Linked DNA regions of Homo sapiens. The protein of the gene in region 2 interacts with the protein of the main gene of each other region in a biochemical or structural test. Each region holds a gene or a part of one and is shown on either strand. Other genes may lie near its edges.

Evidence for each region. The genes of interacting proteins can lie anywhere in the genome.
Region 1: the proteins of TRIO (region 2) and FLNA form a complex in vitro, tested with the Homo sapiens proteins (one study listed by BioGRID).

Annotation. Positions count from the first base shown.
Region 1 is NC_000023.11:154,357,635-154,364,634, reverse strand, and holds part of FLNA (filamin-A), read left to right. Parts: coding exon 1-109; intron 110-262; coding exon 263-376; intron 377-469; coding exon 470-613; intron 614-1,850; coding exon 1,851-1,974; intron 1,975-2,056; coding exon 2,057-2,217; intron 2,218-2,302; coding exon 2,303-2,393; intron 2,394-2,486; coding exon 2,487-2,656; intron 2,657-2,847; coding exon 2,848-2,965; intron 2,966-3,064; coding exon 3,065-3,327; intron 3,328-4,047; coding exon 4,048-4,645; intron 4,646-4,729; coding exon 4,730-4,903; intron 4,904-4,988; coding exon 4,989-5,151; intron 5,152-5,228; coding exon 5,229-5,389; intron 5,390-5,480; coding exon 5,481-5,651; intron 5,652-6,066; coding exon 6,067-6,190; intron 6,191-6,279; coding exon 6,280-6,436; intron 6,437-7,000. UniProt on the Homo sapiens protein: Promotes orthogonal branching of actin filaments and links actin filaments to membrane glycoproteins. Anchors various transmembrane proteins to the actin cytoskeleton and serves as a scaffold for a wide range of cytoplasmic signaling proteins.
Region 2 is NC_000005.10:14,146,342-14,153,341, forward strand, and holds part of TRIO (triple functional domain protein), read left to right. Parts: intron 1-7,000. UniProt on the Homo sapiens protein: Guanine nucleotide exchange factor (GEF) for RHOA and RAC1 GTPases. Involved in coordinating actin remodeling, which is necessary for cell migration and growth. Plays a key role in the regulation of neurite outgrowth and lamellipodia formation.

The DNA of each region.
Region 1 (7,000 bases), on a different chromosome or scaffold from region 2:
GGAGGCTGGCGAGTATGCCGTTCACGTGCTGTGCAACAGCGAAGACATCCGCCTCAGCCCCTTCATGGCTGACATCCGTGACGCGCCCCAGGACTTCCACCCAGACAGGGTAAAGAGCAGGCTGTGATGGCCTAAGTCTCGCCCTGCTGCTCCTGCTTGGGGTCTGGTGGGGATGGCACTCTGTGTCCCTGGCCACCCTGCCTGGGTTGTAGCTCTGGCAGCCTGGACCTGGCCCCCTGACAGCTGGGTGGTCTCCCGCTAGGTGAAGGCACGTGGGCCTGGATTGGAGAAGACAGGTGTGGCCGTCAACAAGCCAGCAGAGTTCACAGTGGATGCCAAGCACGGTGGCAAGGCCCCACTTCGGGTCCAAGTCCAGGTAGAGCACCCACGGGTGTTGGGGGCAGGGCAGGTGTGGGCACCCAGGCCTGGGCACTGACCAGCAGGCCACCTGCTCCTATCTGCCTGACAGGACAATGAAGGCTGCCCTGTGGAGGCGTTGGTCAAGGACAACGGCAATGGCACTTACAGCTGCTCCTACGTGCCCAGGAAGCCGGTGAAGCACACAGCCATGGTGTCCTGGGGAGGCGTCAGCATCCCCAACAGCCCCTTCAGGGTGAGCCAACCTCCACCGGCCTTTAGTCCATCTCGATAGCATTCACGTAGCACACGATTCGTCCATTTCAAGTGGTTGTGGCACACCATCCTGACTCCCCTGTCCCACAGCTCCTGGTGACCACTAACCTGCTTTCTGCTGTGGCTTTGCCTATCCTGGACATGTTCTATAGATGGAACTGTGTGCCATGTGGCCTTTTGTGTCTGGCTTCTTTCGCTCACCACGAAGTTTTCCGTGTTTTCGTTCATGTTTGGCATGTCTTGGCACTTTGTTCCTTTATAATTATTTTGTTTATTTATTTATTTATTTGAGATGGAGTCTCACACTGTCGCCCAGGCTGGAGTGCAATGGCGCGATCTCGGCTCACTGCAGGCTCTTTCTCCCAGGTTCACACCATTGTCTTGCCTCAGCCTCCCGGGTAGCTGGGACTACAGGCGCCCGCCACCCCCCCGGCTAATTTTTTGTATTTTTAGTAGAGACAAGGTTTCACTGTGTTAGCCAGGATGGTGTCGATCTCCTGACCTTGTGATCTGCCCACCTCGGCCTCCCAAAGTGCTGGGATGACAGGCATGAGCCACCGCGCCCATCCTGGTTTTTTTTTTTTGAGCCGGAGTTTTGCTCTTATTGCCAGGCTGGAGTGCAATGACGTGATCTCAGCTCACTGCAACCTCTGCCTGCCAGATTCAAGCAATTCTCTCCTGCCTCAGCCTCCTGAGTAGCTGGGATTGCAGGCATACGCCACCATTCCCAGCTAATTTTGTATTTTTAGTAGAGACGGGGTTTCTCCATGTTGGTCAGACTGGTCTCAACCGCCTGACCCCAGGTGGTCCGCCCACCTTGGCCTTCCAAAGTGCTGGGATTACAGGCATGAGCCACCACGTCCGGCCGCTTCATTTATTTTTATGGCCGCATAATACTCCATTGTGTGGCCAGACCACATTCCATTTTTCCGTTCACTTGCTAACAGATATTGAGGATGAGCTTGCCTTTGGTGATCATGAACAGTGCTGTTAACAGTGAGTCCAGGTGTTTGCGTGGACATTTGCTTTCATTTCTCTTGGGTAGTTGCCTCGGAGTGAACCGGAGCATCACACAGTCCCTCTGTGGTCAACTGAGGAACTGCCAGACTCTTCCCAAGGCAGCTGGACCATTTTGTGTGCCTGCCAGTGTAGCTGAGGGAGCTTCTGAGTCTCCTCCAGGCTGCTCATGCCCTTGCCCTTGCCCCTGTGCCCTGCAGGTGAATGTGGGAGCTGGCAGCCACCCCAACAAGGTCAAAGTATACGGCCCCGGAGTAGCCAAGACAGGGCTCAAGGCCCACGAGCCCACCTACTTCACTGTGGACTGCGCCGAGGCTGGCCAGGGTAAGGCCTGGCTGTGGGTGGGAGGGCAGGTGGCTGGGGTGTCCCTGCGAGGTCTCAGCCTCCGCTCCTCTCCCCGCCGCAGGGGACGTCAGCATCGGCATCAAGTGTGCCCCTGGAGTGGTAGGCCCCGCCGAAGCTGACATCGACTTCGACATCATCCGCAATGACAATGACACCTTCACGGTCAAGTACACGCCCCGGGGGGCTGGCAGCTACACCATTATGGTCCTCTTTGCTGACCAGGTGGGTGCTGCGCTCCTGGCCGCTAAGATGTCATTGCGGATGACGTCTGCCCTCCTCTAAGGCCTTCTCCTCCCACTGCCTGCAGGCCACGCCCACCAGCCCCATCCGAGTCAAGGTGGAGCCCTCTCATGACGCCAGTAAGGTGAAGGCCGAGGGCCCTGGCCTCAGTCGCACTGGTGAGGACAGGTACCCCATGGCAGGTTGCGGGGCATCAAGGGTAGGAGGGCTTGGGGCAGGGTGCCCCTACATGGTCCCTGTGTGTTCCTCAGGTGTCGAGCTTGGCAAGCCCACCCACTTCACAGTAAATGCCAAAGCTGCTGGCAAAGGCAAGCTGGACGTCCAGTTCTCAGGACTCACCAAGGGGGATGCAGTGCGAGATGTGGACATCATCGACCACCATGACAACACCTACACAGTCAAGTACACGCCTGTCCAGCAGGTAGCCACACCCTCCACTACAGTCACCGAGTCCCCAGCCTCCTCATGCAGCAGCCTAGGGGACAGCTCCGAGGGACTTTCTGCCCACTCTCATTCCTTACCTGGGAGAGGACAGGCATGGAGGTCCAGGAGGGGGTTGGGGAGCAATTCTGGTGTCTCTAAATACCCCCTTCCCTTCTGCACCCTTCCCAGGGTCCAGTAGGCGTCAATGTCACTTATGGAGGGGATCCCATCCCTAAGAGCCCTTTCTCAGTGGCAGTATCTCCAAGCCTGGACCTCAGCAAGATCAAGGTGTCTGGCCTGGGAGAGAGTAAGTAGTTGGGGCCCTTGTCGCAAAGGCCTTTGTCACATCCAGGGATTGGCTGAGCTGGGTGTCATGTCTCTCTCCTTCCTTTCATCGTTTCCACAGAGGTGGACGTTGGCAAAGACCAGGAGTTCACAGTCAAATCAAAGGGTGCTGGTGGTCAAGGCAAAGTGGCATCCAAGATTGTGGGCCCCTCGGGTGCAGCGGTGCCCTGCAAGGTGGAGCCAGGCCTGGGGGCTGACAACAGTGTGGTGCGCTTCCTGCCCCGTGAGGAAGGGCCCTATGAGGTGGAGGTGACCTATGACGGCGTGCCCGTGCCTGGCAGCCCCTTTCCTCTGGAAGCTGTGGCCCCCACCAAGCCTAGCAAGGTAATTGGGGTATGGGAGGCCCTAAGGGTAGAACCCACTGTGCTCTCTGAGGGCCCCAAAGGTACCCCATCTTCTCCAGACCTGCCCTAAATCCTTTTTTTTTTTTTTTTTTCCTGAGACAGACTGTCAACCTTGACCCTGTTTAAGTGAGAGTAAAGGGGAGGAGGGAAATAGAAACCCACAAAAAGTCATCAGGGTTGAAGAATTTCTTTTTTTTTTTTTTCTTTCTTTTTTTTTTTTTTTTTTTTTTTTTTTTTTTTTGAGAAAGAGTCTCACTCTGTCGCCCAGGCTGGAGTGCAGTGGCGCGATATTGGCTCACGGCACCCTCCGCCTCCTGGCTTCAAGCAATACTCCTGCCTCAGCCTCCCAAGTAGCTGGGATTACAGGTGCCCGCCACCATGCCCAGCTAATTTTGGTAATTTTAGTAGAGACGAGATTTCACCATGTTGGCCAGGCTGTTCTCAAACTCCTGACCTCAGGTGATCCACCCACCTTGGCCTCCCAAAGGGCTGAGATTACAGGCGTGAGTGACCGCGCCCTGCCCTCCTTTTTGTCCTTATGACTGATGGATGGCCCATCTGGCAGGCAGCCTGGGCCCGCCCGTGTCCCTGTTTGGTGAGGGCAGGAAGCCAGGGCAAGGGGAGGCAGGTGGAAAGTCAAGCAGGAGGTCTGGGATCGGGGCATAGTGTGGCCTTGGCTCCTGACCCCTTCTTCCCTCAGGTGAAGGCGTTTGGGCCGGGGCTGCAGGGAGGCAGTGCGGGCTCCCCCGCCCGCTTCACCATCGACACCAAGGGCGCCGGCACAGGTGGCCTGGGCCTGACGGTGGAGGGCCCCTGTGAGGCGCAGCTCGAGTGCTTGGACAATGGGGATGGCACATGTTCCGTGTCCTACGTGCCCACCGAGCCCGGGGACTACAACATCAACATCCTCTTCGCTGACACCCACATCCCTGGCTCCCCATTCAAGGCCCACGTGGTTCCCTGCTTTGACGCATCCAAAGTCAAGTGCTCAGGCCCCGGGCTGGAGCGGGCCACCGCTGGGGAGGTGGGCCAATTCCAAGTGGACTGCTCGAGCGCGGGCAGCGCGGAGCTGACCATTGAGATCTGCTCGGAGGCGGGGCTTCCGGCCGAGGTGTACATCCAGGACCACGGTGATGGCACGCACACCATTACCTACATTCCCCTCTGCCCCGGGGCCTACACCGTCACCATCAAGTACGGCGGCCAGCCCGTGCCCAACTTCCCCAGCAAGCTGCAGGTGGAACCTGCGGTGGACACTTCCGGTGTCCAGTGCTATGGGCCTGGTATTGAGGGCCAGGGTGAGTTGCCCTGCCGTGGGGTATGTGACGGGGGACAGGGACCAGAACCCCCGAGCCCCAAGCCTCCTCTCTGTGCCTTTGCAGGTGTCTTCCGTGAGGCCACCACTGAGTTCAGTGTGGACGCCCGGGCTCTGACACAGACCGGAGGGCCGCACGTCAAGGCCCGTGTGGCCAACCCCTCAGGCAACCTGACGGAGACCTACGTTCAGGACCGTGGCGATGGCATGTACAAAGTGGAGTACACGCCTTACGAGGAGGGTGCGTGCTGGGGACTCCCACAGGCTGGCAGACGGGGTGGGTGGGGTGGCCCGGGCTCCTCCTGACCTGGCCTGCACTCCTCCAGGACTGCACTCCGTGGACGTGACCTATGACGGCAGTCCCGTGCCCAGCAGCCCCTTCCAGGTGCCCGTGACCGAGGGCTGCGACCCCTCCCGGGTGCGTGTCCACGGGCCAGGCATCCAAAGTGGCACCACCAACAAGCCCAACAAGTTCACTGTGGAGACCAGGTAAGGGAGCCCCCAGGAGCCCGTGTGGCTGGTGGGCCTGGGAACCCCAGGAATGACCGGCTGTCTGTTTGGACCAGGGGAGCTGGCACGGGCGGCCTGGGCCTGGCTGTAGAGGGCCCCTCCGAGGCCAAGATGTCCTGCATGGATAACAAGGACGGCAGCTGCTCGGTCGAGTACATCCCTTATGAGGCTGGCACCTACAGCCTCAACGTCACCTATGGTGGCCATCAAGTGCCAGGTGAGGAGGTGGCGGCCAGGGCAGGGCTGGGACTGTCTGCTCGTCCCCACCCTGTCTCATACAGCCGCCATCCCTTTGCCCCAACCCTCAGGCAGTCCTTTCAAGGTCCCTGTGCATGATGTGACAGATGCGTCCAAGGTCAAGTGCTCTGGGCCCGGCCTGAGCCCAGGCATGGTTCGTGCCAACCTCCCTCAGTCCTTCCAGGTGGACACAAGCAAGGCTGGTGTGGCCCCATTGCAGGTCAAAGTGCAAGGGCCCAAAGGTGAGTGTTTGCATGCCTGGAGCCAGGGGTCAGGAGGGCAGTGTCCTGTTTGAGGGCCGGGAAAGGAAACTGGAGGCCCAAAGTGAGGACCAGAGTGCAGAGGTGGTGCAAGTGTGTAGGTGTTTTTGGAAGAGCCTCAGGTGACAGTGCAGCCAGGTGGGGGACTTGGAGGAGGTAGAGCAGATGGGACTGGTCACTGAGCAGATGTGGCAGGAAGGCAGGCAGGCAAGGGTCCCAGCTGGCACCCAGATGGGTGTCTTTCGTGCCAGAGGGGGTCAAGGCCATTCCCAGGGTCGGGTGGATGAGGATAAAGCGAGGTCTAGGCCTGGGGCTGGGTCCTGGCCGTCCAGTGTGGTGGGGTAGGAATGGAGGCCCAGGAGACTAGCTGATGCTCTGTCCCTGGGGCTGGGGCCAGGCCTGGTGGAGCCAGTGGACGTGGTAGACAACGCTGATGGCACCCAGACCGTCAATTATGTGCCCAGCCGAGAAGGGCCCTACAGCATCTCAGTACTGTATGGAGATGAAGAGGTACCCCGGAGGTAAGAGGCAGGGCCTGCTGCCTGTGGGGAGTGGCCCAGGCTGGATGCTGAGAACCTGTCTGACTGCTCACAACACCAATCCCTCACAGCCCCTTCAAGGTCAAGGTGCTGCCTACTCATGATGCCAGCAAGGTGAAGGCCAGTGGCCCCGGGCTCAACACCACTGGCGTGCCTGCCAGCCTGCCCGTGGAGTTCACCATCGATGCAAAGGACGCCGGGGAGGGCCTGCTGGCTGTCCAGATCACGGTGAGCTCCGGGCACAGGCAGGGGAGGCAGGGGGGCCTGGGCGGCTGGAGTGTGGGCTGCGGGTGGCTGGTGTCTGATCTCCCTGCGGAGCTGCACCAAGGAGGGCAGGGAAGGACAGGGCCCCTGTCTTTGGTTTGCTAAGGTTGTGACTACCTTAGGATGGTGGTGACAGGCACAGGCTTCCCCAGACGTGCACTTGCTGCTAACTTTGAGCACGTCACCAAAGCCTTCTGTGCCTCAGTTTCCCCACCTGTAATATTCTCATGGGGCAGGTATAGGATAGAAGCTTGAGATCACCCCGGTGAGCTCCTCCTAGTGCTGGCCAGGCCCTGGGGCTGAGGATGGGTGCCAAGCTGGCTGGCCGCGCCTGTTGTCATGTGGGAAGTGTGGGATGTTTTAGTCTCCATTCTGGACTCTGCCAGGTGCAGGCAGCCCTTTTGGGCCATAGCAGTTAAGATGCCTGAGGCCCAGAGACTGTCCCTGTAGCAGCAGCGCTGGGCACTCTGGGAGCGCCTGAGGCAGGCCCGGGGCTACTCGGGCTTGGGCCAACTGCCTCCCCTGCCT
Region 2 (7,000 bases):
TTTGAGCCTGGTACTAAAAGTGCCAACCTGACTTAGACAAAGGCTTTCCATTGCTTGCCTTTCCTTTCTCAGCCCTGAAACTCTGTTTGCATGGCTGCCTGATTTTCTTTCTTTTTTTTAAATTCGTTCTTGTTGCCCGCATTCGGCTTTGTCTTTGTAGCCACAGATTGAAAACTAATACCAGTGGTTGGATGAAAGAAAGAGAAGACTTTAATAGAACTTTTAAACAATTAAGGGAAGTTCAGAAATAGAGTGAACAGTCCTGTGATTTCTCCATTACTGGAAGTGCTCACATAAAGGTGCTGTCACCTGGCAGGGTTTGGAGTTGGGCTCAGGGGACAGGACTGCTGCCCTGGAGAGGGGTCCGGGAGATGACCTTGGGGCTGTTCCCCTTTCCCTGTGGACTCTGGCTTTCTCTGAGTCCTCAGTGCCTAATCATTGTTCTCCGCTTTTCTTTGGGTAGTTCAGGGCTCCAGAGCCCTGGTGCCCTTCTCCTCTGCTGAGCGTCCACCCAGGGTTCACCTCACCCAAGGTCTCATTTCCTTTGCTGTCATTCCGTTCTCTGCTCAGGACCTTGGCACTCCCTGTTCATTTTGATGATCATTTTGATCACCTATTTATAGACCTGGCATGAAGCAGGCAGGCCAATTAGTGTTCAAGTGGATTGAGTTGTAATAATGTGAGTCAAGTCCTGGTGCTTGTGTGTTAAAGAGCAGTAAGAGATTTTCTGCAGGTGTTAGTGAATTTCAAACTTCACTTTTCTCCTTTGCACAGAGCTCAGCACAGTAAAACCAATTTCAATGCAAGAGCAAAAAGAAAAAAAAAGACACCACAAAAATGAGCTAGCCTTGTTTTAATTTTATTTTACAGATGAGGAATCAGCCTTAGGGAGGTTTCATGACTTGCCCCCCAGAGTGGAACTTGGGTAGAGTTAGAGTCAGGGCCCTGGTCCCTGGTGCTCTTTCCTGGTCGCTTCTCATAGCCAGGACGTTGCTTACATTAGTTCTCAACCCCACTGGGACCAATCATTTTTATTGCCAATCTATTTTGGGGCTCTGTTCTCGTGGCAATAAATCATTCTTTCAGAGCTCCCTATTTAACCTTGTGAGAGCGTGTGTGTGTGGTGGAGGTGCTTACATAAATGCAGTATTTTTAACCTGCCTGGCACGCTTTAGGTTGGCGTTAAATGAATATCTGGAGAATAAAGGTTTGTAGTTATTCTGAAGCATCACGTCCTGTCGTGCTTGGTTTCTTTCATTATTAAATCTTACTCGACTCCTCCTGCAGCCCCTGTCTTTCCAGGGAACAGGTGAAGAAAATCAAGTCTATTAGGGAGAAGCACACATACTTTTATATATTTTGATATGACGGTTTCCTTGTGGAGTATTGAGAGAAGCTTTTCTTCATATTTATACCTTGAATGCCACTTAGGTAGTTGGCCTGGGGCGGGCTGTGCTACTTCTGTTGGTATTGAGAAGCCTGGCAGCTTTGGTCCTTGTGAGCACCAATAATGATTGTATTACAAAGTGGGTCCTTGTTACCCTCAATATTTCAAAAATAGAAACTGAAGGAAATGTAATTTGATAGTGAATGTTGGTTTCTCCTTTTTAGGTGGCACAGTCAGTTTTAGAGGAAAGCAAGGAGATTTCTAAAATTCCTGTAAGTGACTTTCGAGGAATCAAAGAAGTGCAGTAAAGTCATCACTGAAAGAAGCTTTTCATTGAGACCTTGTAAACCGACATATTGATGTGGGATATTGTATTTTTTCCCTTTGCAATTTAACTATTTAAGATTCAAATGAAAATTTAAAGAAGCCATTTCCACCATTTAAATGATTAACCAGATTTAAATGAAGCCGGTGGTGGTGTTCAAAATGAAGCATGTGGTTTACATATGTTTCCTAAATGTACCCTAAAAATATGTAATTTCAGTGGCCTTTTTTGACCTTTTAAATGTTACGATAAAGTTGAGATTTGTTCTGAACTGCAGGTGAAAGATGTGTTTGAAGCTGTCATAATCTAAGTCAGCTGTATTCAATATTTACTTTGTTTATTTACTTGACTATCGAGAAAATAAAATTTTATCTCATAACCTTGGCAGAATTCCAGAGAAAAGTCTAATTCTTAATCAATAGCCACACTTTACTGCCTAGTAAACTCACTGATATTGATAGGGATGAGCTGTGTTTTACTACAAAAAGCAGTGATAACACCCTGCCCCCATTCCTCCTCAATTCTATAATGAATTGGCTTTTATTTCCTTAAGTGCATTGTCTTGACAAAATTTTAACAGCGCCACTGGCAGGAAATAGTAGCGACTCCCTGGACAGTGAAGACTTGGATTTGCGGGAGAATCCCAGTGTATTCTGGTGGAAAGTGCGTGCTCTGACCTCATCCTCCCATTTCTTCCAAGTACTCAGCTGCGTAGACTTGGCCAAACTGACAAGGGTGATGGTGTGGTTGGCCTGGTGGATGGAGATGCTGTCTTTTGAATCTTCTCAGCCTCATTTTAATTAATGGGCTGCAGGGACCAGGCTGGGTCCCCAGCTGGAGCAAGGGGTAAGCGGGTTCGATGTGCATCCACAGGGTTCTCTTCGTCCTATTCCAGTTCTGCTGACGCGCTGTTCAGTGGGCCACTGGGAGAGGGAATGAACAGGGAGACTTCCCAGTGACCCTTGCACTTGGGAATTCTGGCTGCTGTTACTCAGCGGGAGCTGTTCTGGGAATTCCTATTGCTGTGCCTCTGAACTGAGGGGAAGGGAGCATAGAGGAGTGGTCAGAGGCTTGCGGGGCCCTGCATGTGCTGCTGGCTTCCTGCTGGACCCCTGGTCTCCTCCCCCTGTGCCCGCAGAACAGGACTTCGCTCTCACTGCCAAGGTGCCCAGCTCCCTGCTAGTTCGTAAATCTCAAAGAGAGATACCTGGCTAGATTGTCCAGTGAGGACTCCCAGCTTTTTGATGTTACTGAGCCTTCTGTGCAGACAGTCTTGCTTTTGGGGAATCTTGCTCTCATGTTTAATGGTTAACAAGTGCATAAACACTCATTTTCGCTTCTCATTCACTCATGGAAACACTTAATTTGCTTACTGAATAGTTGTGTTGTTACCTTAATTTCCTCTTTTCTGTCCCCTCTCCACATAAGGAAGCCCCTTGAAACCCAAATTACTAATCACCTGCCCCCCGGGAAAGGTTGTATGTGGGGAAAGAGAGAGCAAACCAGAGTGAGGCTACGAGCGGGGGGCAGAGGGCATTGACCTCTGAGATTTCTCCCTGTGCCATTTGATGGCAGAGGGGCTGTGGAAATGTAAAACCTCGTTTTGGTGATGAACATACTTGAGTTTTAGATTACTGGCTCTTTTCATTAGCCACATGTCTACTCTTGTCTGATGGGGGAGGATTGTAGAGTAGTCTAGAGCTGGTGTTTTGGAGGCATCTTCCTATTTGGGCTTTGTCATCAATGAGTGCATTTTAGCAGTTACACTGACAGAGAAAGCTTTCATGAAAACTTACTCAACACAAAGACTGGATTCTAGGTCTAGGGTACTTTGACTTTGTGGTGTCCACGTGAGTTGATCAGGCTTGTTTTCTCACAGTCTGTAGCCCTGCTATGGACAGGGATGAATTGCAGGAGGTTTTTCTTGGGGAGGGATTTCAGTGAGTGGCAGCAGATTTGTCCTGGCCGCTCTGTGGACCCCTTTCCTGAAAGGAGGGGGAGCTGGTGCTGCTCCATTACTGGCTTACTGCAGGGAAGGCCAAGGGGCCCCTTGCTGTCTGTCTGTTGTTGTTAGCATTGAAACTGTGTAGGTGTGAATAGATCACAAACTATAGTACAGCCATTCCATTAATGTTGAGTGAGAGAAGACAGTCTCAAAATGCTGCATGCTGTATGAGTTCCTTTATATGACACTGGCAAAAAGACAGAACCGTAGTGACAGAAAACAGATGGGCATTGATTGCCAGGAGTTAGGGGGTGGGGGAGTATGGCTACAAGGGGGCAGGAGGCAGGTGAAGGATGGGGAACTGATTTGTATTCTGGTTGTGGCAGTTACATGTGTTAAAATTCACAGACCTTTACACACATGCACACAACACACACACACCGTTTAACTGTATATGTTATTTTAAAATGTGACATTAAAAAAAGGCCAATAATAAACTGGGAGAAAAACTATTACAAATCAAAGGATTATATATATGTAATTAGTAAAGGGCTCCCTCAAATCAATTAAGACAAGACATATCTAGAAAGAAAATAGGCAAACAATTAAAAGAAGTATGAATGGCCAAAAAATACATATTCAGCCTCACTCATAATCGAGGAAATGCAGATAGAACCAATGATACCAACAAAAGCCAAAGCTCATATAAGTAATTATTCTCTAAGTAAACTTGAACAAAATTGAGTTAATTTGGAAAGATTTTATATCGATTTGAAAGATAGTAATACTTGTGTTCATACTTTGCTATGTAGGACCTAGCTTCTTATAATTGCCCGGGGGTGATCTAGGGTAATGGTAAAGATAGATAGGGGGAAATAAAGATTCTTTCCTGGGATTCTGTAATACGTGTTAATTTGGAAATCCATCTGGTGTATAAGTCAAATCTGACTTACAATAATCTTTAGCTATAGACAGTTACCATTTTTGCTGCTTCAAAATTTCCCACTCCCATGATTTGTGCTGCTGTCCAGATCGAAGATGACAAGTGGCCCATGCAGGATGATCTTCAGCGCCTCACAGTTCCTGGTGCGAAAGAAGAAGTTTAGTTTCATCTGGAGGGCTTCGTTCCTACATGAGTAACTATAGGAGGTCATTTGCCCTCTGTTCTTAGGCATTCTTGTATATAATTGACAGCTACCTATTTCACGGTATTGACAATTAATAAATGGATTTATGAAGTGTTAGCCCCACCTACTTTTAAGACTCATAACCATAAAACTATGCATGAACTTGAGAAAAACACAGTTCAAATTTACACGTATAATCCTAAAATATTTTTAAATGGGGTTTGTTGGTGCCTGTTTTTTCATTGTGTGTGTGTGTGTGTTTGTGTGTGTGTGTGTGTGTGTGTATGTATGTATGTAGGTATATCTCTTGGAAAGTCATAAAATACCCCTCTTTGGATTTCTGTGGAATAGGTGGTTTCAGTGCAAGAATGAATGAATATATCGGAGACTAATACTTGAAATCTATTTTCAAAGAACTCGTGTTTCCTAGTATATATGAAGTGACATGTATAAATGACATGAATGCTTTCAGGCAAAATGTTTAGATTGTGATTTGAAAATGATGTGCATATGAGAAGTCGTTAAGATGTTGGCCAAAACAGTGTGTGTATAAATTGATCTCCATTGTTTATTCATTTTGCTTTGCTTCCTCTTGCATTGACCCATCCACTTTTTCAAGTTCACAATGATTCTTTTTTGCTGCTGCCATTGAAGGATGCCACTGATACCTGTGAGAGGGCACTCTTTGGCATTTGCATTCTGAAAGTTTTGCATTTTCTTATTTGTGTTTACTTTTTAAGTTCATCCTTGTTCTGCATGACAGATATGCCAGGGCCTGCAGGAATAGCATTAAAATTCTGTTGTTTTTTAGATAACTTTATTAGTTTAAGTTTTAAATGATAAGGACCGAGAGCTACAATTCCTCTGTTTTTTATTCTGAAGCTGAACCACACAAATATTGAAAAACAATGCTTTGACTGGAGTGTTATATATATTTCCACCTAACTAGCTTCACACAATAAAATCTCTAAAGTTTAAATTGCCCAATATTTTGACATCTAAATAACTGGAATAAATCCCTCATTAGTCTAATAGTAAACAAATAGATTTCTCATTTGTAGGTGGCTTTTTAAAAAATTTAAGTTCATGATTATGAGAAATTCTTCCCAGCGTTCACTGCCCTTTTCAGTACCAGAGTGATGAAAGCTGGCATGCAAGGGAACATTACTAGCTCGAAAAGCAAAACAAAACAAAACAAACCCAGATCGCATGGGGGCAGGATGTATTTCAGTTTTTTTGTTTGTTTGTTTGTTTGTTTGTTTTGAGATGGAGTCTCGCTCTGTCACCCAGGCTGGAGTGCAATGGCGCAATCTTGGCTCACTGCAACCTCTGCCTCCCGGGTTCAAGCAGTTCTCTGCCTTAGCCTCCCAAGTAGCTGGGATTACAGGCGCCCGCCACCATGCCCAGCTAATTTTTTTGTATTTCTAGTAGAGACGGGGTTTCACCATCTTGGCCAGGCTGGTCTTGAACTCCTGACCTCGTGATCCACCCATCTTGGGCTCCCAAAGTGCTGGGATTACAGGCGTGAGCCACTGCGTCCGTATTTCACGCTTTTTAAGAGTCACTTCACCTCCATCTAAATTTTGTTGCACTTACCCTAATATGTCTTGGGTCCAGGAGCCTGGAGAACGGGTGCTAATTTGATGGTTTCAGGCTGTACCTTTTACTCACGTGCCAATTCAGATCAGTGCATCCTGATGGGTTGCCCATAGGAGAGCAGCTCTTCATGGCAGGGGCTTCACTGTAGAGTCATTTAGTGCCAGAATGTTGTTAGTAGGTAAATTTTGTTAGTTGGTTGGTATACATATTACTTTTCCAATATTTAATTGCAGAATTTGCAGGATTCATTGTTAGGCCTTTCTCTCATACCTCATGGGTATTGTTTATTAGGGCCAGCCTCAACTCTGCTGGAGTCTGAATTCTCATAAGGTTCAGCCTGTTTGTAAGACGGAAGCTGTCCACTGAACCAAAGAGCTGGAAGCCTTCGAAAGGCATGCAAGATTGAGGTGGAATCACACAGATTTTCGGTGATAACCTGCAGAGTGGACGATGGAGGCTTTGGAAAGTAGGATGGCAGCCTTGCAACAGCCTGCCCCTGGCCATGCTTGCCACACCCTTGCTATCCTCTAAATCTTTAACAGCAGCTGCCAGGGAGCAGCAAGAGAGGCCAGGACCCCTGTCACGTGGGATGAGATAGCACCTTTGGAATTGTGCTC